2 separate regions of the Homo sapiens genome follow, and region 1 is linked to region 2. Evidence: fine-mapped expression QTL. A gene starts in region 2. The other region holds a variant in brackets. All regions are shown on one strand. Distances are from middle to middle.

Region 1 (8,000 bases), 21 kb before region 2:
AACAACCCACAGAAAAATCAAACATAGAAAAGGGAGATTCAGAGACAGAAAGGAAGCCAACAGAGCTTGGTAAAGGTGGTGTATCTCAGAGTATGGGTTTCTCTCTTTATGAATACCTTCAGTGACTGAATAAGCCAGCTTCCTAGGTTCAATTCATAATCATCCATGAGTTCATAACCATAATGAGTTGCTATACTCATTGTTATGATGGTGGTTTATTTTATAGGAAATAAGAAAGTTACTGTGCTGCCTTGAAGGAATTTTAATTCAAAAGACAAACACTTTTTAAAAAAGAAAAGAAAAACCTTTTCACACATCTCTAACTAGGTCATTATCATATGTGAGTAAGAATGACAAGAATTCACAAGCCCAGAGTTTCCCTAGTTTATAGTTTAGCTTAATGTGATATAACTTAAATATTTTTCAGACTACTTACTACCTTGAACTTGGATATAAAATATAGCCCATTTTCAGAAGTTTTATCTGTACCACATATATAAACAAAATCTAATTCATGAGATAGTCTTTAAAAAAATTACTTTGACTATATATAATAAAACGATATTATGAGTAAGCTCTGGATTATAAAAGTAACAACCAGAGGGCAAGTGGTTCAACATTAAGAGATTTTATTATAAAATGAGTGGTAATAAATTATCATTTGTTGGATAAATTCACTTTTAGACAATTTTTAAAATATATTCTGTAATCCCAGCACTTTGGGAGGCCGAGGCAGGTGGATCACCTGAGGTCAAGAGTTCGAGACCAGCCTGGCCAACATGGTGAAACCTGTCTCTACTGAAAATAACAAAAATTAGCCGGGCATGGTGGCGCATGCATGTAATCCCTGCTACTTGGGAGGCTGAGGCAGGAGAATCACTGGAACACAGGAGGCAGAGGTTGCACTGAGCTGAGATTGTGCCACTGCACTCCAGCCTGGGTGACAGAGCAAGACTCTGTCTCAAAAAAAAAAAAAAATGCAATTAATACAAGAAGTAAGGAAGAATATAAGATTATTCTATGAATCATATATTAGGTATTATATTCTGCTAAAGGCCCTTCCGTTCCTTGAATGTCATTGATGTATGATTGCTAAGGATCATCAGTTATCAAAAGCCATTAGTAGCTCACAGAAAATAAATGCAACTTAATTATGAGGCTAGTTTACATGCACACATATCCATAAATTTCACAAATAAGAATTTAGATTTTGCACGTTAATGTTACAAAAGCTCCAGATAATGAACAATGGATTATATGCCAAAAAGTTTTTCTCTGAGTCAAATTTATATAAATTATGAAAGACTCTCTACTATATCACTAAATGAGTGCATTTATTTATTTATTTATTTATTTATGAGATGCAGTCTCGATCTGTTGCCCAGGCTGGATTGCAGTGGCACAATCTTGGCTCATTGCAACCTTTGCCTCCTGGGTTCAAGTGATTCTCCTGCCTTAGCCTCCCGAATGGCTGGGATTACAGGCACGCACCACGATGCTTGGCTAATTTCTTGTCTTTTTGGTAGAGATGGGATTTCACCATGCTGGCCAGGCTGGTCTCGAACTCCTGACCTCGTGATCTGCCCACCTCAGCCTCCCAATGTGCTGGGATTACAGGCCTGAGCGACCATGCCGGCCTAAATGAGTGCTTTTAAAAACTAATATTCAGATGGCTATTTCTTGTGTCTCCAAAGATTTAATATTGGCATAAAGTTTACATAGGCATTTTTGCTTCAATAAAATATTTTCTTATACTTCAATAACATTCCCTTCCCAATAATTACTAAAAAAGAAAAATTCATCAGACTGAAAAACACATTTGATATCCTTTTCATAGTTATGGGTGGCCAGGTGGTTCTCATTTGTGCAGTAAATATCAAAGGCTTGAAGTACAGTGTTATAATATTTGGACAAGAGAGGATTGCTGGATGCTAAATTTTATTTTGAAATATGTGTCTCCAGAGCCTACTTTCTTTCAAGCTTTCCATATGGCTTATTGAGCCACATTACTTTTCATAGAATCAAAAATATAAAACATATGAAGCTTTAACAAGAAATGAGATTAATTACTGGTTATAGCTCTGTGAAATAAGTTACTGAGATAGTAAGAGAGATAAGTTATAACCAAGCATTATAACCAACATGACTGATAGCAAACAGGAGTAGAACTTACCCAATGTTAAAAATTTCCTTGCAACACAAACATATTTCCTTGAACAGTTTCAGCACTTAAGTTAATATAAAAATTAACTTGTTAACTAATGCAGTCATGCTTTTTGATTCAGCACCAGTAGTTTAAAGATTCTATTCCAAGGAAATCATTACATCTTCCCCCCTCTCTCCCCTTTATTGCTCCCCGATAGGTATGTATATTTTGGACATATACCTTCTTCTGGTGTTTGTGCTCTCAATGATTCACTCCAATCACTCCAACTTCCCTTATAAAGATGTAGCTTAGAGGAAATCTGAAATTCATATTCTGTAAATGGTTTCAGATCCAGCAAATCATGTCTTCCTTTGGCCTTTGTAACATTAACCTTGAAACAGACATTTTTTTAAAGTGCCTATTAATACTAGATTGCTAATTTAAGGAATTTTAACATAAAATGAAAAAAAAAAAACCCAGGCTATTTGATCTTATTTGTTTTTCAGACCTACCATTAAATGAGAAGAAATATCAGTGACTGTCTTACCGAATAGATATGATATTAATCTGAAATGATAGCATCTCATTAAAAATAAAACAAAATCTCTGGGTACTAAGAACCCATCTATGTAGGTTCTCGAGGGGAATCCTGAAACCAGCTGAAAAATAAGATTGAAAACTACAAAGTTTCTACACTAGAGATTATTTTTTATTTGATTACAATTAGGATGTGATGAATGTTTTAACACAAACATAGCACTGGCTTTTTTTTTTTTTAAAAAAACCCTTTAATTAGTTATACTCTCTTGAATATCAGCTATCTGTGGGACTGATCCTTTGTTATTATAAGCCATTGAATTTTACAACAATCCCGGAAAGAATCATAATCCTATACCTTTTATTTTAAAACATGCAATGCCTAATATTATATTAAATTGTAGACCTTTTCTTTGGAATATTAAATTCTATATAACTCTCTGTGGACATTTCTTAATATTTCTCTTTTCAATATCTTTTTTAAATGCTAAAAAATAATAACAGGACAGGGTAAATAATAAGGAGAAATGAATCCTCTGTTAGAAATAAACTATAGAAAATTAATATTGGTTTACAAAAGCTTTAAAAATTTCAGAATCAGAGATCAAAATTCAAGATATTTCTTAATCAACAGAGGCATACATGACTTTCTGATAATTCTCTCGTGTGTACTTTTGGGATAAATATTCTTAAACTCTATTTTTTGCTGTATGAAAAGACAGAGGTCTGCGCAGCAATATTAAGAATGCTTCAGTGTTTTTTCCTTCACTCTAAAGATAATTACCATATTCCAGAGCCTGCTGTTACTGGGCCGATATCTGAGTCGATTAAGCAGTACCAGTCCCTCATCTCTCCAATAAAGGGTACATCTGCTCACAGAAGCCTTTTGAAATTTGATTCTAATGTCCCACGGAGGAAGAGGCCTCACTAGTAACCAGGACAAACAAAAAAGTGTGGTTCAGGATCTGTGATCAGCAATTGTCTTATGTACTGGCATGAGCTATAAAGAGTTTGACAAAACTCAGTTCTGAGATGCACAACCATCAAATTTGGTAAAATATACAAGAGAAAAGTTCCAGGCTTTAAGAAAGAACTTTTTTAAAAGCTGGATTCACTTCTGAATCTTTAAAATAATCCCCCTTAATCAAATCTCATTTTCACCAAATAACTACTACCAACATTAGTGGTAAGTTTCAACTACACTTAGTCCAGTGGTTTTTCAAAAACCAATGTGCCAAACCCAAGAGTTCCAATGACTGAGAAGCCAGAGACGGCTAG[T/G]GATGACTGCCTCAGGAGGAGAAGAAATGTTCGTAGGAAAATTCATAGCAAAGGGACAGAGGAAAAGAACAAGGGGGCGAGAAGGTAGCCTAGAGATGAACGGTCTATGAAAGAAATGGGAGGAAGCCTGAGAAGAAATATGGTGGAAAAGTGTATAGTAAATGCCAATGATCAGACTCATCGTTAGCAATATGTATGCAGAGAAGTGCCATGGAAAGAGAGGCGAGAAGCACATAGTGTGAGGTTGGAACTTCAGGCAGCCCAGTTCTGCCTGGATGGTCAGAACTTGGAATGCTTGAGATTGGCCTCTGATTCAACTGGACCGATTACATTTGCTCAGAAATGTACTGGCTCACTCCAGGGATGGAGGTGAGTATTCTCAGAGCAAGATGCATCTGTGACTTGAGAAATTTTATTTATAGTTTGTACCTCGCTGCTCTAGCCTAGCAGGCCCACATGTAGCCTATCTCACAACAATGGGAGTAGCCATGGGGGCGAAAGGACACCTCCTCCAAGAAGGGCTTGCACTGAGCATCTTGAATGACCTCACAGGACCCTCTCCTCAGTCAGGTGGTATCATTAGTAGCTGGTTCTTTCATGGGATTTGAATCCAGGGGCTAATTTCTTCAATAGAGAGAATAATGTTGAACATCCCACTTTGTATAGCCATCTTTAGATAGCTCAGAATAATGCACCCTTTTACTTGCATCAAAGTAACTTCTATCTTTTGCTTATGCCTGTTGGCCAATTTCCATCAATCTCTGTCTTTCTTGAAACAACCATATAAAAAAGATTTGAGTGATTTTAAAAATAATTATAAAGTACCAATGAAACAGTGAAATAAAATGTACCTATGTCCAAGAATGTGAATGTGGATGGAAGTGAAGAGGAGCTTCCAAGACTATTGACAGCAGTAACCTTGGCTGTGAAATTGGATTCAGGTGATTCAGGGGTGAGGTTGATTCCAAAGTCCAAATAGTCACAATAAATGTCTTTACATTGCTTCTGCCAGGTTAAATTTTTTGGTCCACTTAGCCTGTAAACAAAACACAACCACGTGTAGCAACATGTTTTATGTGCTACTTTCTACTTACAGTAGAAAAGAACAAAATGTTTAAATATTTAGAATTCTAGACAATTTTTAAAGGTCAATCTTATGACTAGGGGATACACCCCGGGAATATTTGTACTATATGGTCATGTAAGACTATACTTCACCCAACTCCCTTTTTTGGTAGAACTGAGATGTTCTTCCACATTCATGTAGATAGGTAACCAAGCCTACGCTGCTGAAATTCCCCAAACCCTGCTTGTCATCTTGGCTCCCCAGGGCAGTTCCAAACATTATCCTAAGCACTGTGGCCACCTTGACATCTGTGGCACAGAATTGTCAGTTCCTAGTACAGCAGTGGCCAGAGTAGAATCCTGGGCTATTTTACCCTAATACTGAGACCCGCGTGTCAATAGATGTTTCCTTTAGGTTAGAAAAAGTAAATGTACTACAGAACCCCTCCTTTCCTCCATCTCCTCCTCACTCAGGAATAGCACAAATCAGCTGGATCTTTAATGGGATCATGAAATCTACTTCAAGGAACAGAATCTCCCAGACTCTCTCTTCTCATGGACTCTTAGGTCAGCCAATGGTGCTTTAAAAAGAAACTTATCCAAGCGAATGGGAAACTACCACAAGGAAGAGTTTATTTATGTATCATGACCCCAAGAGCCTACAGCTGCAGAAAAGAGAAGCGATCTTATGCAGCCAGTTTAACCCTACTAGAGTGGGAAAGAACAGCTATAACTTGGATCTTGGATGCACTGAAGAGAACTCTGAGTTAGAACTCAGACCCAAGACATTCGGTCTCTCATACTGTAGATGAATGAACCAGTTTTAACTATAAACATAGAAACTCTTTAAAAAGTATCTAATTGTCTAGAAGTATCTATTGCTTCTCCTTTCTGGTAAAAATAAAACAGATAGGCCGGGCACCGTGGCTCACACCTGTAATCCCAGCACTTTGGGAGGCTGAGGCGGGTGGATCACGAGGTCAAGAGATCGAGACCATCCTGGCCAACATGGTGAAACCCCGTCTCTGCTAAAAATACAAAAATTAGCTGGGCGTGGTGGTGGGTGCCTGTAATCCCAGCCACTCAGGAGGCTGAGGCAGGAGAATCACTTGAACCCAGGAAGCAGAGGTTGCAGTGAGCCGAGATTGCGCCACTGCACTCTAGCCTGGTGACAGAGTGAGATTCCGTCTCAAAATAAATAAATAAATAAATAAATAAATAAATAAAATAAAATAAAAATAAATAAAGAAAACAGATATTTCTAAATGTCATTTAAGAGAAGATCTACAAAACAGCTGCAAAAATACAGCCTCTCACTCACTGTAGAGTATACTCAGTGTATAAGTGGGTGTCTCGTCCTCTTTCCCAGGTGCAGGCCACAGTCCCCTGTTCTCCCTTCTGTATGCAGGATAAATTTTGAGGCTGTTCTGGAGCAACTTTAAAAAGAAAAGACAAAACCTTATATATCACACAGGTGATATTTCAACCGAATTGTTATTATCTGCCATCAACATGACAATACGTCCCCCACATGCCGTAAACCCAGGTAAACTAGAAGCTATTTTAGATTCCATTCAAGTCCCAGTTTGCCATTAAGGTGTAAATTTCTCCTAGAAACAGTAATAATAGTAGTGAATATGGATCAAATACTATATGCCTAGCCCAGTGCTATGTGCAGTTTTTCTGAATTAGACAGCGTAGCACCCCATGAGGTAGATACTATTATTATATTTTTTTTCAGAGAGGAAACTGAGAGAGGTGAAATATCTGGCCCAAGATCATAAAATTATGAAGTGGCAGATTCAAGGCTCCAGCTCAGCTGTAACTCAAGTCCAAGCCTTTTACTCCATATTCTACCATTTTCCCTGACAGGTGAACATCCAGTGCTAGCTCCATTACCCCTGGTAATAATAAATTAATTTCTTTTAGAGTGATGCCCATTCAAATATTAGAAACCTTTAAAAATGAGAGACTTATTTGCTTTCTTCACCTGATATTTGCTGTCAAGACACTTACACCCAGTTGCCTCAGTCATGTCCTCCCGGGCTATACCATCTAAATCTAATTTCTGCATTGTCTCTTGGAGCACTTTATGGACATTTATAAATTAATTCTTTTGTGTACATAGGCATTGAGTACCTCCCACGAGCCAAGCACAGTGCTAGATGTGGAAATACAAAGATGTACAAAGCAAGCATGGTCCCTTCTATTGTAAGGTGTGTATTTTTAAATAAAGCTATTTTATGGTGAAAGGACCCAAACTAGGAATTTTTTGGACAAAATGGAGGTAAGAGAAATACTCAGCTATTCAGTCATCCCATTTTACCCTAATACCCAGACCCACGTGTAGATACATATTTCCTTTAGGTTAGATAAAATGAGTATACTACAGAAGTCCTAGCTATTGTCTACACTGAAAAAATCTGTTATTGATTAAATAAATATCTTTTTTGTCCTTAGCATCCACCATAGACATAGGCACAGGAATGCCCACTGTGTGACCTTGGACAAGTCAGAGCTTCAGTTGAATCTATAAAATGGGTATAATGATATCTAGCTCATATAGTTTTAATAGAATAATAAACTTTTCCTTTAAAAAAGTCTCTTTTCGCTGGATGCGGTGGCTCACGCCTGTAATCCCAACAATTTGGGAGGCTGAGGTGGGCAGATCACTTGAAGTTAGGAGTTTGAGACTAGCTTGGCCAACATGGTGAAACCTCTTCTTTACTTAAAATACAAAAATTAGCTGGGTATGGTGGCACATGCTGTAATTCCAGCTACTGAGGAGGCTGAGGCGTGAGAATCACTTGAACTCAAAAGGTAGAGGTTGCGACGAGCTGAGATTGTGCCAGTGCACTCCAGCCTGGGTGACAGAGTGAGACTTTGCCTCAAAAAAGAAAGAAAAAAACAACAACAACACAAAACCACTGGAGGCTCTTGCTGGAAGTAGAATAAAGGAATGTTGCCAATAAAT
Region 2 (16,988 bases):
GTAACGAGCTACGAGTGACATTAACACACACACACACACACACACACACACACACTACTCTGGGGACTAGGGTGGATGCAGGCAGACCAGTTAGGAAATGACTGCAGAGGCACAGGTAAAATGATGATGACGTGGTCCTCAGGTGTTGTAGTGGCAATGGAAAGAAGTGTTCAGATTTCAGGAAGCCTTACTTATGTCTTCAGGTCAGAGTGAACCCTCCTGCCAGTATCCTCAGAGCACCCTGGCATCTTCCTATCTTAGCACGTACCATAATTAAAGAGAACTAATTTATTTAGATACCTGTCTATCTCCTCCATTACCTTGCAAGCTCCTCAGGGGCAGAGGCCACAATTTGTGGCACATAGTAGGCATGTGCTGTCCTGGATAAAACTTAAATTGTGTGTGTATGTTCATCTATTTTACTTCTAGTTTAGTTTAATGCAACTACATTAAAACTACTTACATTAAATCTTATTCTACTACATTGTGGTTGGATTTTTTGTTATATTAGTAAAGGTGTTAAAATATACTCTTCTGACATATTGACTATTTGAGTTAAAGGCACTTGAAAAACAGCAGGGGCAAGAAGATCACTTTGACTTCCCTGCTGTTTCTTAAAATCAGAAGGTGAAACTCCCATATGAAAGACACTCCCTGTACTAGAAAGTCAACAACATCTTTATCTTCAAGGATGAGAAATTGAGACCAAGAGAATTTTGTACAGACTTTGGCATCCCCACATAATTTAGTCACATTTTTATAGGTTACTATTCTTTGCTCAATCCAATATTTAAGTAACTGACTCTACTTCTTTGGGTCTTCATTTTTTCATGTCTCCCATGTCCCATAATATTTGTTGAGTAAATTTGTATTATTTTTTTCCTGTTAATCTAATGTCAATTTAATCCTCAGACTCAACCAAGACCCTAGGAGGATGGAGCGGAGTTTTTCTACCCCTATAGTAGCTATGTTAGCTGCTGCATTAAAATTTGGAATATTCTGGCATAGATAAAATTATGGATTGAACTGGAAGATAACTGAATGAATGGCTACATAGGGATTAAGTAGGTTTCTGCTTCCTAACTGCAAAAGATATCTATGGCGCCCCTTTGTAGAAATTTTCAACATGGATCAAAATTTATGAAGCTATAACATTCTCCAAATAGTAAAATACTCATATGATAATTATAAGGATTTAAAAAAATGGATATATATGAAATATGTTTTCATATATATTATGTCCTATTATTAAATAGGTTAAAATATATGTGTATATTATATAAACATACATATTTATATGAAATAGGTAAAATGGAAGATAAATTTGAGTTTATATAATGGTACATTGATCCAAACACAAACTTGCTCATTTTCTCTGACTACCAGGTAAAAATAGCTTCTCCTTTTATGAGAAGTTCAGAATCCCCAAAGACCTTCAAGTAAATGAGGTATCTTCCAATAAAATGAAACCTACTGTAACTGTAAACATCCTTCACATACCCTGCCTAGAGGGTAAATATTAAAACAACAACTCTGTCTTGAATCAGAAAATCAAAGAGTGTGCTATGTCATTGACTCATCACTCAAGTTGTGACAGTTTCCAGATGGTGAAAACAACGTCTCAGATCGGGGATGGGGGTGGGGTGGGCGGGAACAAGCCAGAAATACACCGACCGGTAGGAAGACAGAGACAACAATTACTCCCTGACCAGCCTCTTTCCCCATTGCTCTAGAGAGAAGCACAAAGCATGAAGCTACTTCAAAATTGTATTGTGCTAGGCTAGGAAAAAAGAAACTCTTAAGTTTCCTTTCGCAGGTGATAATCTCATGTTGGCAGAAAAACTTTCTACTTCCAAATTATTTTTCTTCTGTAGCACTGTATTAAGGTCAAGGGAAATAGTGGTATTAAGGAAAAGAAAAAGGTGAATGAATCTCAGTTCTGCTATATGCTATTGACTGTGAGAGCACCATTTCCTCATGCCTTACAGTAGGTATAGTAATACCTAGCTCGACAAAGTTACGGTGACGATTAAGGCAAAGTTATTGTGAACAGTCCATGGTGTCATGGATTCATGAGAATACTTAGCACAAAGTAAGAACCCCACTGAGGCTGGTTCCTATTTCCCCTGCTGATTCCCTCGTTTGTATTTCTTTGCTAAATCACATATGATTTTCAGTGTACTAGAGTTGTATGTTTTGTTAGGCCAGGTAAAAAAAATCTTAATTCCTAAGACCATCAAAGAACTTAAAAAGTCAGGGGAGGAAGGAGCTACACGAGTTACTAGTAACTACTGTGCCCTGCTGCTCCCTTCCCCTCCAACAGCTGACATTTCAGTCTGGGCTACCACAGACAACCAAATGATTGTTTCAAGTGTGCCTCAAGGCTGGTTGTCATATAAATGAATGTCGTTAATGATCAGGTGACTAAATGAGGCAAAGAACAAAATTCTTCCCTTCTGCCTGCAAAGCTACTTACAGAGATATGTTTTACTGGTAGCAGATCAATATACAGACAACACTTCAGAGGTCATTTATTCCCGACTTTACAAATGGATCACCGTGACCTAGAAAAAAAGAGGGGACTTGCTCAAGTTCACATTAATAGCAAAATCCAGATCAGAACCTCAGTCTCTCTCTCTCTCTCTTTCTCTCTGATGCAGTCTCGTTCTGTCACCCAGGCTGGAGTGCAATGGCACCATCTTGGATCACTGCAACCTCCACCTCCTGGGTTCAAGCGATTCTCTTGCCTCAACCTCCTGAGCAGCTGGGACTATAAGCATGCGCCACCACACCTGGCTAGCTAATTTTTGTATTTTTAGTAGAGATGGGGTTTTACCATGTTGGCCAGGCTGGTCTTGAACTGACCTCAGGTGATCTGCCTGCCTCGGCCTCCCACAGTGCTGAGATTACAGGCATGAGCCACCGTGCCCGGCCAGTCTCCTGATTTCTAATCCAACATCACTTCTAGATGTGAGGCTGCTTGTAATCAATAGCAACAGTAGCAGCATAATACTAAAAATAATGCTAATCTTAACACTATACTAATACTAATGCTGCAATTTTTTGATCTCTTACTATGTTTCAGGCACGATGCTAGGCACCTTACATACAATCTTTATGATATCTATCTAGTAAAGCATTTATAATGCCTAATGCTTTACTCTTCAGAAGGTTGACTCATTACTTCTGAGGCCCACCTCCCTCAAAAGAGGATGAAACAACAAAACTCAGCGCACATACAATATGTAACCGTATCTGATGCTATTCCACTATGGTGATGGAAAAGGATAATCAAATCAAGTTACCAATTAGCTAACCTTCTCTTCTTCATGAAATTTCCTGAGTTATGGTCATGAAAATGAACTGTTTTTCATTCCAAGTCTACCATTTGGTGAAAGAATGTAACAAGCCATTACATGGGCAAAAGCCCGTCTATCAGGCCCCATCATCAAACCGGCCCCATTCATAATGTCATGGTAAATGGCTTGAAGGGGAAGGAAAGTAAAATGCATAACCTTTTCTACTTTTTCTTCTTTCTATTCAATAGTCCAAGCACTGTTTACATGAGCCAAATTTAACACACACACTTGTTTTCCTTTTTGTGCAGCTGACGAGGCTGCCTGGAATTTTCTCTAATTTCATTGGTAAGCATTTGCTGTCCTATGGTTCCTCTTTAATTTCACCCAAGTACAGGAACTTTCTTTTCTTGCTCAAATTCAGGAGACTTCCGAATTTTTGTTCCTTTTTTTTTTTTTTTAAATTCAATGTGTTTTCTCCTTTCCCTCTTTATGGCTTTTTTTTTTTCTTAACTTCCTTTATTCTTTTCTCTCTTCTTTTCCTATTTTTTCTGGAATGTTGTTTCTGTCAATTCTGTTTGTCTTTATTTCCATTTTAGATACATCCCATTTGACATAATAGACTCCTGAAATGTTGTGCGTAAACAAATCAGAGTTGAAATGAATTTATCCCACCCCAACCCCTCAATCATCTGTACTGAGAACTATTTTATCCTATAGATTGAACAAGCATTTCTCCAATATAACAGTAAAAAGAAAGAAAGAAACAAGATACGAATGGAGTCTTGGAGAAACAAGACACTTTCAAATAAACTACATGACCTCTTTTCTTTCTTTGAATAGCTCCCATAAGCCTAAAACTTTCATGGCAAGTGTTCAATAAAGCTTCGGAAACTCCAGCCTTCTCTGATTCACTCTCTGTATCCTGCTAGGCCTATCGATAAAATAAGCTGTCTTCTATTGGGAAGGATGATGTGCTGGAAAGAGGCCCCGGGCACCATCCTTGGTTCCTCCATTTCTGCCTCTGTCACCATGGCAGGTAACTTCATACTTCAAAGCCTCCTTTCCTTATTTTAAAAATAGCAATTGACCTTTATTGAGAAAACTAAACCTCTTTCACTAACTTTTCTTCCTTAGTGTATTGGAAAGGTTTTTTCTTTGACATCCTCAATCTGGAAGTCTCTGTTTGTGGACAATGGCAGGAGGTTTATCTTTGGATCTTGGGTATTGCAAAGTCCTGGCCAAGTTTTGCTTCACCTTGTAAGCAACCACTGAGTATTTTCATAAAGTACTACAAGGCATTAACATATTAAGATAATTGCATTGTTTTGAGAATTTTCTAAGAATTTCACAATTATCTTAAGATAATTGGAGGCACACTTGGGAGGGGAATTAAAAAACTAAGGGTAGTGATCACCATGCCACAATGTTTCCCCAGGTTTCTCATATAAATTAAGAATTCAGCTGAAGTCTCTACACTAACAACCCTCCATCTCAGTATCTCCTGATATTTTACTTAATGTGTTGCTTTTCCTGCATATCATTGCAAAATAGAGGTTAATTAAGATTCTAATTTTAACAATCTTTTGTAGGCATTTACTTAGTAGTTTATCACTGTGCAAAGCATATAATTTAGTTGTTAATATTTGGTCAAATACATAAAGTAATGATTAGTATCCTATTCTACAGATAGAAAAATCTGTAAGTTGACCAAGATAACCCAGAAAAACCACACATAAATCCAGAATTGGATTCGAATTACATTCTATGCTTCCCTTCTCCATGAGCACCTGAGAAATAAAAATCCAAGCTTGATGCTCTGTTAGTCTAACTGCTTTCCCTCTTCTATCGGTTTAAATTCTGCAGGAACAGGCTTACCCCTCTCATTTATTCTCAGCATGCCTCAGGGCTCCCATGTTAAACCCACAAAGCTACTACCTCCAAGAGGCATTGAACCATGTTTACGCTCATCACCTCAGTCCAAGCTCCCAGAAGAGCCTCCTGAGCAACTGTAGTAGTAATGAAAAGAGCAGTGGATCCGCCCAGGACACCTAAGTCTTGGCTCGGATAATTCCAGCTATATGGCCTGTGACAAATCACTTGACCACTCAGCCTAAGTTCCTTCATCTGTAAAAAGGGAATACAAACAGCACCTACTGGACGGACGTGGTGACTCACACCTGTAATCCTAGCACTTTGGGAGGCTGAGGCGGGCAGATCACGAGGTCAAGAGATCGAGACCATCCTAACCAACATGGTGAAACTCCGTCTGTACTAAAAATACAAAAATTAGCTGGGCATACTGGTGTGCGCCTGTAATCCCAGCTATTTGGGAGGCTGAGGCAGGAGAATCACCTGAACCCGGGAGGCAGAGGTTGCAGTGAGCCAAGATCGCACCACTGCACTCCAGCCTGGCGACAGCAAGACTCCGTCTCAAAAACAAAAAACAAACAAACAAAAAACCAGCACCTATCTCACAGGATTGTTGGGAGGGTTAAATGACAAGCTGTTAGCAGAGTACCTGGTATATAGCAAGAGCTCAATCAATGTTACCTGCTATTATTATAAGAAAAAAGGCAGTATTACTTCTTTTCAGTGACACTACGAGAATTAAGTTAGATGGCCTTGCTTTTGACTCCTCTCTTTGCCCATTCATCTGATTTAACACTGAAAGACTGATTTGATTAAAACTAGATTCCATACCTCCTAACTTCATGCCACCTATCATTTAAGACATATTAAGTATTCTCAAAATTTTCCCAAACAATTTTGACTTCGTAGGTCATGAACTGGGCCTTACATTTCTTTATATTCACTAAGTCTAAGTCCAGCAAATGCACTGACCATAATGTACATGTTCAATACTTATTTGGAAAACAAAAACAAAAACAAACCACTGTTACACTAGCGAAGAACACTAGAAACTTCCAAGGGCAAAGGAAATTGTATAAGACTTCCTTTGGGATTTGGCTTTTTTTTTTTTTTTTTTTTTTTTTGAGATGAAGTTTCATTCTTGTCGCCCAGGCTGGAGTGCAGTGGCGTGATCTCTGCTCACTGCAACCTCTGCCTCCCGGGTTCAATCGATTCTCCTGTCTCAACCTCCCGAGTAGCTGGGATTACCATGCCACATGGTGTGTGCCACCATGCCCCGCTAATTTTTGTGTTTTCAGTAGAGACAGGGTTTCGCCATGTTGGTCAGGCTAGTCTCAAACTCCTGACCTCAGGTGATCCCCCCACCTCGGCCTCCCAAAGTGCTGGGATTACAGGTATGAGACACCGTGTCCCGCCATTCTGCACAAATTTATTTGTAGGAGTTGACAGCAGTGCTGTGAGCGTAATTACAAAGATGACAAATAATTTGGTAGAGAACAAAGCAGGTGCAGCAATACAAAAATAAGTCCACAACTGAGAAATGATGCCCAATACCTACTGTACTTGGCGGATTCTTCTACCTTAAAAATTACATGTGTGCTTTCGAATTTTTTTTCACACTAAAACTCATTCTAATACAGAAAAGATTCCGTTTGTCAAAGTTTGGGAATTTATCAGCCTATGTAATGAACATGACATTCAAGAGGCATGACATATGGAAAAGAGCATATTGCAAACTTTTCTGGAGGCTGTTGTGCCTAACAGATAGTGTAATGTATTGAGGATTTCACATTAAAATAGGGAAGGAAAGTGTTAGCTCTTAGCCACTAAGGTCCTTTTAGTTATGTGTTGGACAGAGAAATAGGGCACTGTACCATTCCTATTAATGGAAAATGAGAATCCAACGTTTGTTTGTTCAAGTGGAGGTGGTTATAAGGTTCTGAGCCAGAGAGGTGGAAACAGAAGGAACACAGTTTTGAGCCAGAAACCTGTAACTCTCTAACTGTGTGAAACATGTAAGTTTCCACATCTGTAAAATGGGAATACTAATAACAATTTCACCATGTTTTTAAGGAATTAGATAATATATATCCAAAAACCAAATACATAGTAGGTGCTCAACAAAGATGTTCATCTACACAGAGCACACACATAGCAGATTATAACAATTATCTAGAGTTTTAAAAATGGGGAAAAAAGGACTAATTTAGCTTTATTCTTTATATATATATGTGTATGTGTGTGTGTGTATATATATATATATGTATATGTATGTATGTATTTATTTTTAAGACAGAGTCTCGCTCTGTTGCCCAGGTTGGAGTGCAGTGGCCCCATCTTGGCTCACTGTAACCTCTGTCTCCCGGGTTCAAGCAATTCTCCTGCCTCAGTCTCCCGAGTAGCTGGGATTACAGGTGTGCGTCATCATGCCCAGCTAATTTTCGTATTTTTAATAGAGACAGGGTTTCACCATGTTGGCCAGGCTGGTCTTGAACTCCTGACCTCAAGTGATCTGCCCACCTTGGCCTCCCAAAATGCTGGGATTACAGGCGTGAGCCACCGTGCCGGGACCCTGTTCTTAGACAAGGTCTATTTGTATGCTTTTAGGTTACTATTTGTAAGACCTGGATCTAATGGTACAGATACATAATCCCGTACAATGCTGACACTGATATTTAGTGTGTCCTAGGGAGATGAGGAGGGCCTCATAGTTCACAAAGGAAGGGGCATTTCACAGAAGAGAAAACTGAGGCTGGCCAATTTGCTTGCACCAGAGCATCTTGCTAGTAACTGGCCAGGCAGGGACTCGGGGTCAGTCCAGAGGCCACAGGAAAGACTGCTGAGACAAGGTTAGTTCACCCTCATCCGGGACTACGGAAGGCCCCCCCCAATATCTTACTCACATTTGATACATTTTCAAGCAACGGGAGCCACGTCTGTGGGCCTGAACCAAGGCTGGACCCTCAGGGGTGCCCTCTGCCCTTTTCCAGTCGCCGTCCCCTCCCTTCCGTTTGAGCCCACCACTCTGTGCCCCGGCCCAGAGAGTACCTTGGAGGCTCAGTCCGCGCGCTCCCTCCCCTCCATCCAGCCAAACCACCACCCAGTACCTCCAAGTGAACATCTGTGCCCAGGGCGTTAGGACTGTGATGAAGAGAAGCCATTTCGGATCGTATTGGAAGACTTTAAAAATATATATATACATATATATATATAAAGAGAGAAGCCGTCGCCGAAGCCCCCTCGGGAGACGCGAGACACGGAATCCCGGGCACGCAGACACCCCGCTGGTCCGGGATCCTGGGGCTCTCTCTGTCCCCGACCCCGAGTCACTGGTCACTCACCACGTGTCGCCTGCCAGCGGGCGCGGTCCCGGGCCTGCGGGGACCGGGTGGCCCCGGTGCTCTGGGCCGCACGTGTCGCGCTCTCCGCGCTCTCTGCCGGCGCTCGGGCGTTCCCGGTGCCAGCGCCCGCCCTCCCGCCTCCGCCTCCCGCCTCTGCGCCACCAACTCCGGGGTGGGCGCGGGGAGCTGGCGGCGAGTGAGGATCGGGCCGGGGCGGGGGTCGGGGCTGGGCGGTGGCCGCAGGGCGGAGAGGACTCGCTTCTCAGTTCAGCTCTGGAAGCGCAGCCGGGCGGGCGCCCGTGGTTTCCACCCCGCGGGTCGAAGCGGGCTCGGGTGGGATTCTGCCACCTGTGGGCTCTGCTGTGTCGCCTTGAGCAAGATAATTCTCTCTCCACCGTCAGTTTCCCCTCATATAAAATGCGGATAATAAAGCCTGTCTCATAAGACGGAGCAAGGGTTGACCGAGGTGAGGTGCGTTTATGCACCAAGATATGATAGGCGCGATAAAATCGTGTGCTCAGCGTTCACAGCCATAGAGACGTGGCACTTTGTTGACAGCCATCAGGGAACTTTCCTCGCAGATGTCCTTTCTCTGTGCTCTGCACCGCCCAGCTCTTACCACACCTGAGCGCCGAGGCCTCCCAAGTGGGCTGTGCACAAGACCGCCCACTGGAGTGCGGGCAGAACATACTGGAACTTCCATTTGTATTTGCTGTCTAAAAAATGAGAAAAAAGTTAAACTTGAACAGATGGCGTGTCACCACTCCCGTATAGGTCCCGTGTTATAAGTGGTGTTCTCAGGCAAGAGGGAAAACTGCCCAGAGTACAGAGGGGTCGGCAGCTCTGCATAATATTCATGACATAATATTTATGACAATATTACTTAGAAAAAAACTGTATTTAAACCTGTAAAGACAGACTCTCACTCTGTTACCCAGGCTGGTCTCAAACTTCTGGCCTCAAGCAATCCTCCCGCCTTGGCTTCCCAAAGTGCAGGGAATACAGGCCTGAGCCTCTGCACCCGTCAGCTTAGATTTCTTTAAATCTAAGACTTCCTTAATTATAAGATATACCATTATTTATGCGCTAGTAAGAAATAAAAAGAACTGCCAGGTAAACAATAACAATGCTTTCTCAACATTTAGAATCTTTTAAACTAAAATTTTATTTAGTTTAGAGATTTTATTTAGATATCTCTAAATAAAATTTAGATTTTAAACATATGTATATTATCTATCGAATTTTTTTTTAAGTCCCCCCCCCTCCCCCACCCCGTTGTCTCTGGAGTTTTCTTCTAGTCCACTGAGCCCAGTACAGGTTTGCTGAGCCCGCAGAAGTGGACAACTGCATACCACGCTTCTGGGCATTACCTTAAAACCGCTCTCAATGTTTGAGATGTTAAATATGAAAAATGTACATCTTGGAATCAACAATGTACAGTAGATTGTCTTTATGGGATTGTGACATACTGTAGTTTACATGCTTTAGTAATTTATCTACATGAATAATTTTACTAAAATCTTTTAAATCGTAGAATCTAGAATCTTAATATTACTTTGTAATGAGATGATACATAATTGTAGAAATCATTTGTAACAAAGATTTTAAAAGTTGTCTTAAAGTGAGTTATTTTCTTTATTTTTACAAAAAAACCCCAAATATCCTAAATTTGCTGATCTTTTCTGTATTGATATATGGCTCTCAGTACATGTTATCTAATAGATCTTTTTGAAGAACAAAAAACCCCAGAGGTTTATTTGTTGTTTCTTCAAGGTAATTTTCACACCAAGTGATACGTTGTTATGAAGAGACGATTTGAAAACAAATATTTCGAAGTGTTCCCATTATTGTGTGTTTTTCTTACTGAAGATTTTATGATTGTCATCACAGAAAATGCTTTTAAAAACTCGGAAACAATTTGCTATTTTGTTTCAATCTTTTAATTGAGCAGTTCAGTGGATTTTAAATCCATTTGTTAAAAAATATAAAAATGCAGCAGCTTCTCATTACTTTAAAAACTGATTGATATCAAGAATAAGATTATGATAGCCAAATGTTATAACAATCTTGCATAATTCATGGATTTTTCAACACTTTTTAGTGAGAAGGAAGGCTTTTAGTTTTGTTAATAAATCAATAATTTCAAAAATGCATTTTACTCTATCTCATTTAAAAATTTAATTTATATATTTGTGTGTGCATATGTGTGTGTGTGTATATACACACATATAAATATACATATGTTTTTCTGTTTTTTTTTTTTTGAAACAGCGTCTCACTCTGTTGCCCCGGCTAGAGTACAGTGGCACAATTTCAGCTCACTGCAACCTCCACCTCCCGGGTTCAAGTGATTCTCCTGCCTCAGCCTCCTGAGTAGCTGGGACTACAGGCACGCGCCACCATGCCCGGCTAATTTTTGTATTTATAGTAGAGATGGGGTTTCACCATATTGGCCAGGCTGGTCTCAAACTCCTGACCTCGTGATCTGCCCACCTCAGCCTCCCAAAGTGCTGGGATTACAGGCGTGAGCCACCGCGCCCGGCATACATATGTTTTTCAAGGAAATAAAAAAACAACCAAACATATGTTGGGGATGTTTCTCAAAAATGCTTTTTTTTTTTTTCTGAAGGAGTATACCATCTAAAATGTTGAAAGACCACTGCTCTATTAACTTCTAATGGCAGCATCTTACAAAATTGCAGAAGTCAGACACAAAATGGTGTCTCAAATGCATCTAAGGCATATTCTTTGAGGGAACAGATGAGAGCTGTTGAGGAAAGAACTTGAATCTGGTTGTTAAGCAAGCACAACAAATTATGAGAATACAGTAAGATGCAGGTAGCAATGATAATCTTCTTTATTCTCTTCTTTTCCCTAGATGCAAGAAAAAAAAAGTCAGAAGATGACAACTCTTACATAAGTATTATTTGAGAAATTATCATGCTCTAGGTCCATCAGTATATTGTTTAACTTAGACTTACATTATCAAGTGAAGACTTGCACTGATTGCCATTGATAACAGTGGTTCTCTTATCCTGCATGCTCCCTGGATTATAAACTCTATGCACGCAAGGATCCCTCATCTTCAGCATCTGGCACACTGAGTGGTACAGGGCAGGTAGTCAATAAGTATTTACTGAGTTGAACTGACTTGTTCTGGAGAGATCCCATTCTTTTTGGCCAGTTCAACGGGATTGTAGGTGTTGTTCAATCTTCACACTTTTCGACAGTTAAAAATTAGTTGGAAAATTAAATATAATTTTTCTTAGCAAGTCGGTAACCTTTCTGTATGAAATCACCATCTGTAGAGGCCTTTCTATTTCCCCACTTCTTTTTTCTGCCTTCTCCTCCTATTAATATCTGGGAGTTTCACTAATACAGGCATGGCTTTTGTCAGTGGTTGCCTGTCTAGTTAGAGAAAAAAACAAAAACAAAAATAACAATGAAAACAAAAATAACAACAAAGACAAACTTGCTTCTGTGCTTTCTAAAGAATAAACCCTAGATGGTAGACGATGCCTGATGAAGCAAGAGCCTAATATACAACCCAAAATGTCAACTGTGATTGTTAATGTAATCATTTTTAAGTCTATGGGTATGATATGGTCTTCTGTGTAGCTGTTAGGTAAATGAATGTACTTGTAAATCAAAAGCTCAATTAAGTGGATAACCACAGTGACAGTGACAAAGTCTTTTCTAGGAAATACTAGTTCAGTTTCCATTTCTGGTATAGTTCCATTACTTTAAATGTCTAATTTGGTTCATTGCTGATACCAAACACCCTGAAAATACGTAATCACACTATTCTATGAATAACTGAGATGTGCTTTTCCTAAAGTGTCACTTGTCAGGATAAATACTAGGAGGTGGTTGCTAACATAGTCATTTAGGGCATCAAATGAATGCTGGCACTCGTTAAACTTGGTAAGACGGTTTTAACATCATTTTAAACTTTTACTTATAATGAGAAAACTCAGAATCTAAGATTAACTGTTCAACCTTAACTGCTTCATTTTGTAAAAGTTTCATTTCTAAAAGTTATTACTTTGTTAGTTTTACTCATCTCTCCAAAGTATTAAACTTATAGGACAGCAACATAACTCCTGAATATATTTGTAGTGTTATGTATTGAAAAAGTTTATATAAAATTAAAATAGTGCAATACCAGATTCTCAGATTATGAATAATCTCCATAATTCTTAAAATGTAGACTTATACCTTCTCCACAACTGACATTTAACAAGCACAAACATTGTTTATAGAGGAACAAACTGGCCAGGCTCAGTGGCTCATACATATAATCTCAGCATTTTGGGAGGCTGAAGCAGGTGGATCACCTGAGGTCAGGAGTTCAAGACCAGCCTGGCCAAAATGGAGAAATCCCATCTCTGTTGAACATACAAAACTTAGCCAGGCATGGTGGCACTCACCTGTAATCCCAGCTACTCAGGAGGCTGAGGCAGGAGAATGGCTTGAACCCGGGAGTCAGAGGTTGCAGTGAGCCAAGATGGCACCATTGCACTCCAGCCTGGGCAACAGAGCAAGACTCTGTCCAAAAAAAAAAAAAAAAAAGATGAACAAACCACATGGAAATTGCCATGTCTTGGAGAGCAGCAGTGCGTTTTTGAGAGGTCTTTAGATTGCTGGATGCCTTGTTAAATGAACATAAAGGTTAAAGAGTAAAGTGAGACATGAGGTAAATTTAAAGCTGTGATAGCTGCAGGGTCCTACACAACATAAACTTTATTCACAAACTGGCTCTGCTATTCTTAGCAGCTAAATCTAAACATATGTTACAGGATTCACAGATTCCATCATGTCATGGCTGGTTACCTGATCATCAGAGCCAGAACTTTTGGTGGTGCAAAACTTTGGCAAGTTCTTATAAAAAGGAGAGTGATTTGCATAAAAGGCAAATTTCTCACAAACATTCCCACATAAAACCACACATATGTTCCTCATTTTTGTTGTCGTTGTTGTTTGTTTGTTTTTGGTTTGTTGTAGAGTACATCAACAGAAGCCCTATGAGAAGTACTCTGAAATGTGGATGTATAATCATTAAGATTCTTTTCTACATTCCACTCTTCTGGCTTCAAATGTCCTTTTTTTCCATGCTTCTCATACATAGAAAATACTCTGATTTCCCAAATGAGACAACCCAAAGTCCTGTCCAGTCATGGCATCCAGCTGAGATCCAAGCTCTCTGAAAAATGAGCAGTGGTGGCTACCTAGTGAGATATGCCTCCTCTGGGTCCACAGCCTATAAACAAACAAGTAAAAAACCCAGGTTACCTGCACCTCCCACCTCGCCCTGCCCCGCTCCAAGGATATAAAATGGTGGAACAGGGACAATGAATGCTCAGCTTAGGAAACAGAGAAGCATGTGACACACCAGAAGTCACTGGTCCAAAGTACCACTGTCTTCAGTGGTGAATGCATTAGTTTTTTTATTTTGGCCTGTAGGACCTCTGCTAAAGAGGCAGGAAGAATCTCAATTAAGTATCCTTTTCTACAAATCAAACACTGCAGAGTAGTATCAAATGTTAATAATATTTCCTTTCCCCTCCAGTCTCTCCTTCCCAAATAATAGTTTTACGAGAATCTTTCCACATTTTTCTTCATGCCTTTATAGACGTATAAAAGCGTTTTAGGTTTTTCTTTTATATTTAAGCCATACAGAAAATATATTCTAGGTTTAAACAAATTGAGCTATTCTATTTCCCTATCTGTCCATCCATCTATCTTTCGTTTTCCTTTTACCACATGACACAAACTTCATTCCATAATGCACGTAGTAGCGCTCTCATTTTTTTTCTTTTTTCCTCTCTCTCTTTTTTTTTTTTTTTTTTTTTTTTTAGACAGAGTCTCACTCTGTTGCCCAGGCTGGAGTGCAGTGGCACGATCTCAGCTCACTGCAGCCTCCGCCTCCTGGGTTCAAATGATTCTCCTGCCTCAGCTCTCAAGTAGCTGGGACTACAGGCATGTGCCACCACACCCTGCTAATTTTTGTATTTTGTATTTTTAGTAGAGCCTCGGCCTCCCAAAAGTGCTGGGATTACAGGCATGAGCCACCGTGCCTGGCCTCATTTTTTTTTTCAATAGCTACAAGTATTCCATACCATGCATGTACTAAGATTTAGTCAACCATTCTCTTATTTACAGGTCTTCAGGTTTCTAATTCCCACCTGCCCCCTTGTCTCCCCCAAAATGCAGCATATTCACCAAAATAAAAATATTCTTACACATATACTTGTACAAATATATGGTGCTTTTATTTGTGGGTAACATAATCTCACATGTAGCTTGTTGAATCAAAGGATATGAGCTTTTTCTCTTTAATGGATTATGCCACATTACTATCCAAATTATAGTAATTCATACTTCCACTAGCATGCCACATTATCACTAATAGTGAATGCTATAAATCTTCTGTAATTATCAATCTATCAATCTAACATGTAAAAAATGATATTTCATTGCCTTACACTGTGTATCTTTGACTGCAAACATCTTCTCATATGTCTGATAGTTTAAAAATATGTATTATTATTCATCTATCACAGTCTACCTTCAAATAGTAGGCCAGTTTATGTATAATACAAAAACTTTACAACAGTATGCTTCTATCCTTATATCTTTTGTACTATTTGATTGTACATTTTACTTTCATTTATGTTTTAAGCCCCATGATACATTATTACTATTTTTGCTTTACTTAGTTATCTTTTAAAAAATTAAAAAATATAAAACCCAAAATTTTCTATATTTCCTCATATATTTACAATTGCAAGTGCTATTTATTCCTTTGTATAGATCAAAGTTTCCAGCCGGTATCATTTCCCTTCAGCCTAAAGAACTTATTTTAATATTTCCTATAGGACAGGTCTGCTCTTGACAAACTTTCTTAGCTTTTGTGTTCTTAAAAATTGTTTTATTTTGCCTTCATTTTTGAAGAATTTTTTTTACTGTATGTAAAATTCTAGGTTTACTTCTCCTCCTCCCAGCATATTAAACATATTATTTCATAGTTTTCTGGCTTGCATCGTTTCTGTTGAGAAGTCAGTGTTAAGTCTAATCTTGCATTCCTGTAATTTTTTTTCTCTTAATGCCTTTCAGATCTCCTTATAATGGACTTTCAACTATTATATTATGATGTGCCTTGGTGTGGTTTCCTTTGTGTTTATTCTGCTTAGTATTTATTGAGCTTCTTGGATCTGTGGTTTTGTAGTTTTTGCCAAATTTGGAAAACTTTTCAGATTTATTTCTTCAGTTGTTTCTTCTGCCTACCATCGCTAGATTCTAATTACACAATTTTGGTGTGTTTGATACTGTGCTACAGGTCACTGAGGCTCTATTCACTTTTTTTTCAGTCCTTTTTTTCTCTGCTTCAGTTTGCTGATTGCTATATCTCCAAGTTCATTGCTTTTTCTTCTGCAGTGTCAAATCTGTGAAATCCATCCAATTAGTTTTTTACATAAGTAAGATATTAAAGTATTTTTCAGCTCTGGAAATTCCATTTATTTTTTATAGTTTCAGTTTCTCTTATTATTAGTTTTTCTCTTTAAATCCTTGAGATTTTTATAATAGTTGTAAAATCCTTGTCTGCTATTTCTGTTATCTCTGTTGTTTCTGGGTCTGTTTCTATTGCTGACTTTTCTCCTAGTTATGAGTCTTATTATTTGTGCTTCTTTGCCCATCTAGTAGCTTTTTTCTACTGAACCCTTGAGATTGTGAATGTTGCATGACCTGCAAAGCCTAAGATATTTGTTATCTGGCCCTTTAAAGAAAAGTTGCCGCGCCCTGCCCTAGATGTACAGAATTGGGTTGAGTAAAATTGTCAGTATACGGAGTTCACAGTACGCAATTGTCTTTTTAAATCCACATCCCCTTTTAATTTTTTGTTTTATCTTATTTTCTTTTCCCTTCATTTATCATTCATCTCAATGCTATTCTTCTTTCTACTCCATTGACACTCTTATTTATAAATATCTTCCCAATTCACATCCCTTGTGTTTATTTACATACATATGGATCTGTGATAAAATACATTGCTATATGCTTTAAAATTTTAAATAAATGGTAGTATGTTATAGATTTAATACTGCTTTTAAGTTTTTTCTCCATCAACATTATGTTTTTATAGTCAATCCATGTTGCTACAAGTAGCTTCATTCTTTCAGCCTGCTGCATAGCATTCCATCACCAGCATAAGCCACATTTACATGGCCATGCTCATATTGATGGGCTTCTAGGTTGCCTCCAATTCCTTGCTACCACAAATAATACCTTGATAAAAGAACATCCTAATGTATGTCCCTTGTGTGCATATCTGGGTGTTTCTATGAGGTGTGTATCCAGAAACAGAAGTGCTGGGTCATAAGAGATGCACCCACTCAATTGTACTAAGTACTACCACATTGCTCTCCAAAATTGGCTGTGCCAGTTGGCATTCATATGAGTACCACATAAAAATATGTTT

Evidence for each region. PIP is the estimated chance that this variant, and not a neighbour inherited with it, causes the effect.
Region 1: its variant is fine-mapped to the expression of IL12RB2 in blood mononuclear cells (TOPMed, PIP above 0.99).

Annotation. Positions count from the first base shown.
Region 1 is chr1:67,325,197-67,333,196 of GRCh38, reverse strand. It overlaps IL12RB2 (interleukin 12 receptor subunit beta 2), which reads right to left. Exons shown (of 17, transcript NM_001374259.2): 5 at 6,348-6,462; 6 at 4,813-4,997; 7 at 3,468-3,610; 8 at 2,387-2,537. Among named protein-coding and RNA genes, the nearest start is that of IL12RB2, 21 kb to the right of the region's middle. The variant T/G (reference allele first, on the strand shown) is at 3,962.
Region 2 is chr1:67,299,489-67,316,476 of GRCh38, reverse strand. IL12RB2 (interleukin 12 receptor subunit beta 2) reads right to left here and starts at 8,604. Exons shown (of 17, transcript NM_001374259.2): 1 at 8,510-8,604; 2 at 2,477-2,564. RefSeq lists a silencer at 8,552-8,741 and enhancers at 9,202-9,251, 9,282-9,381.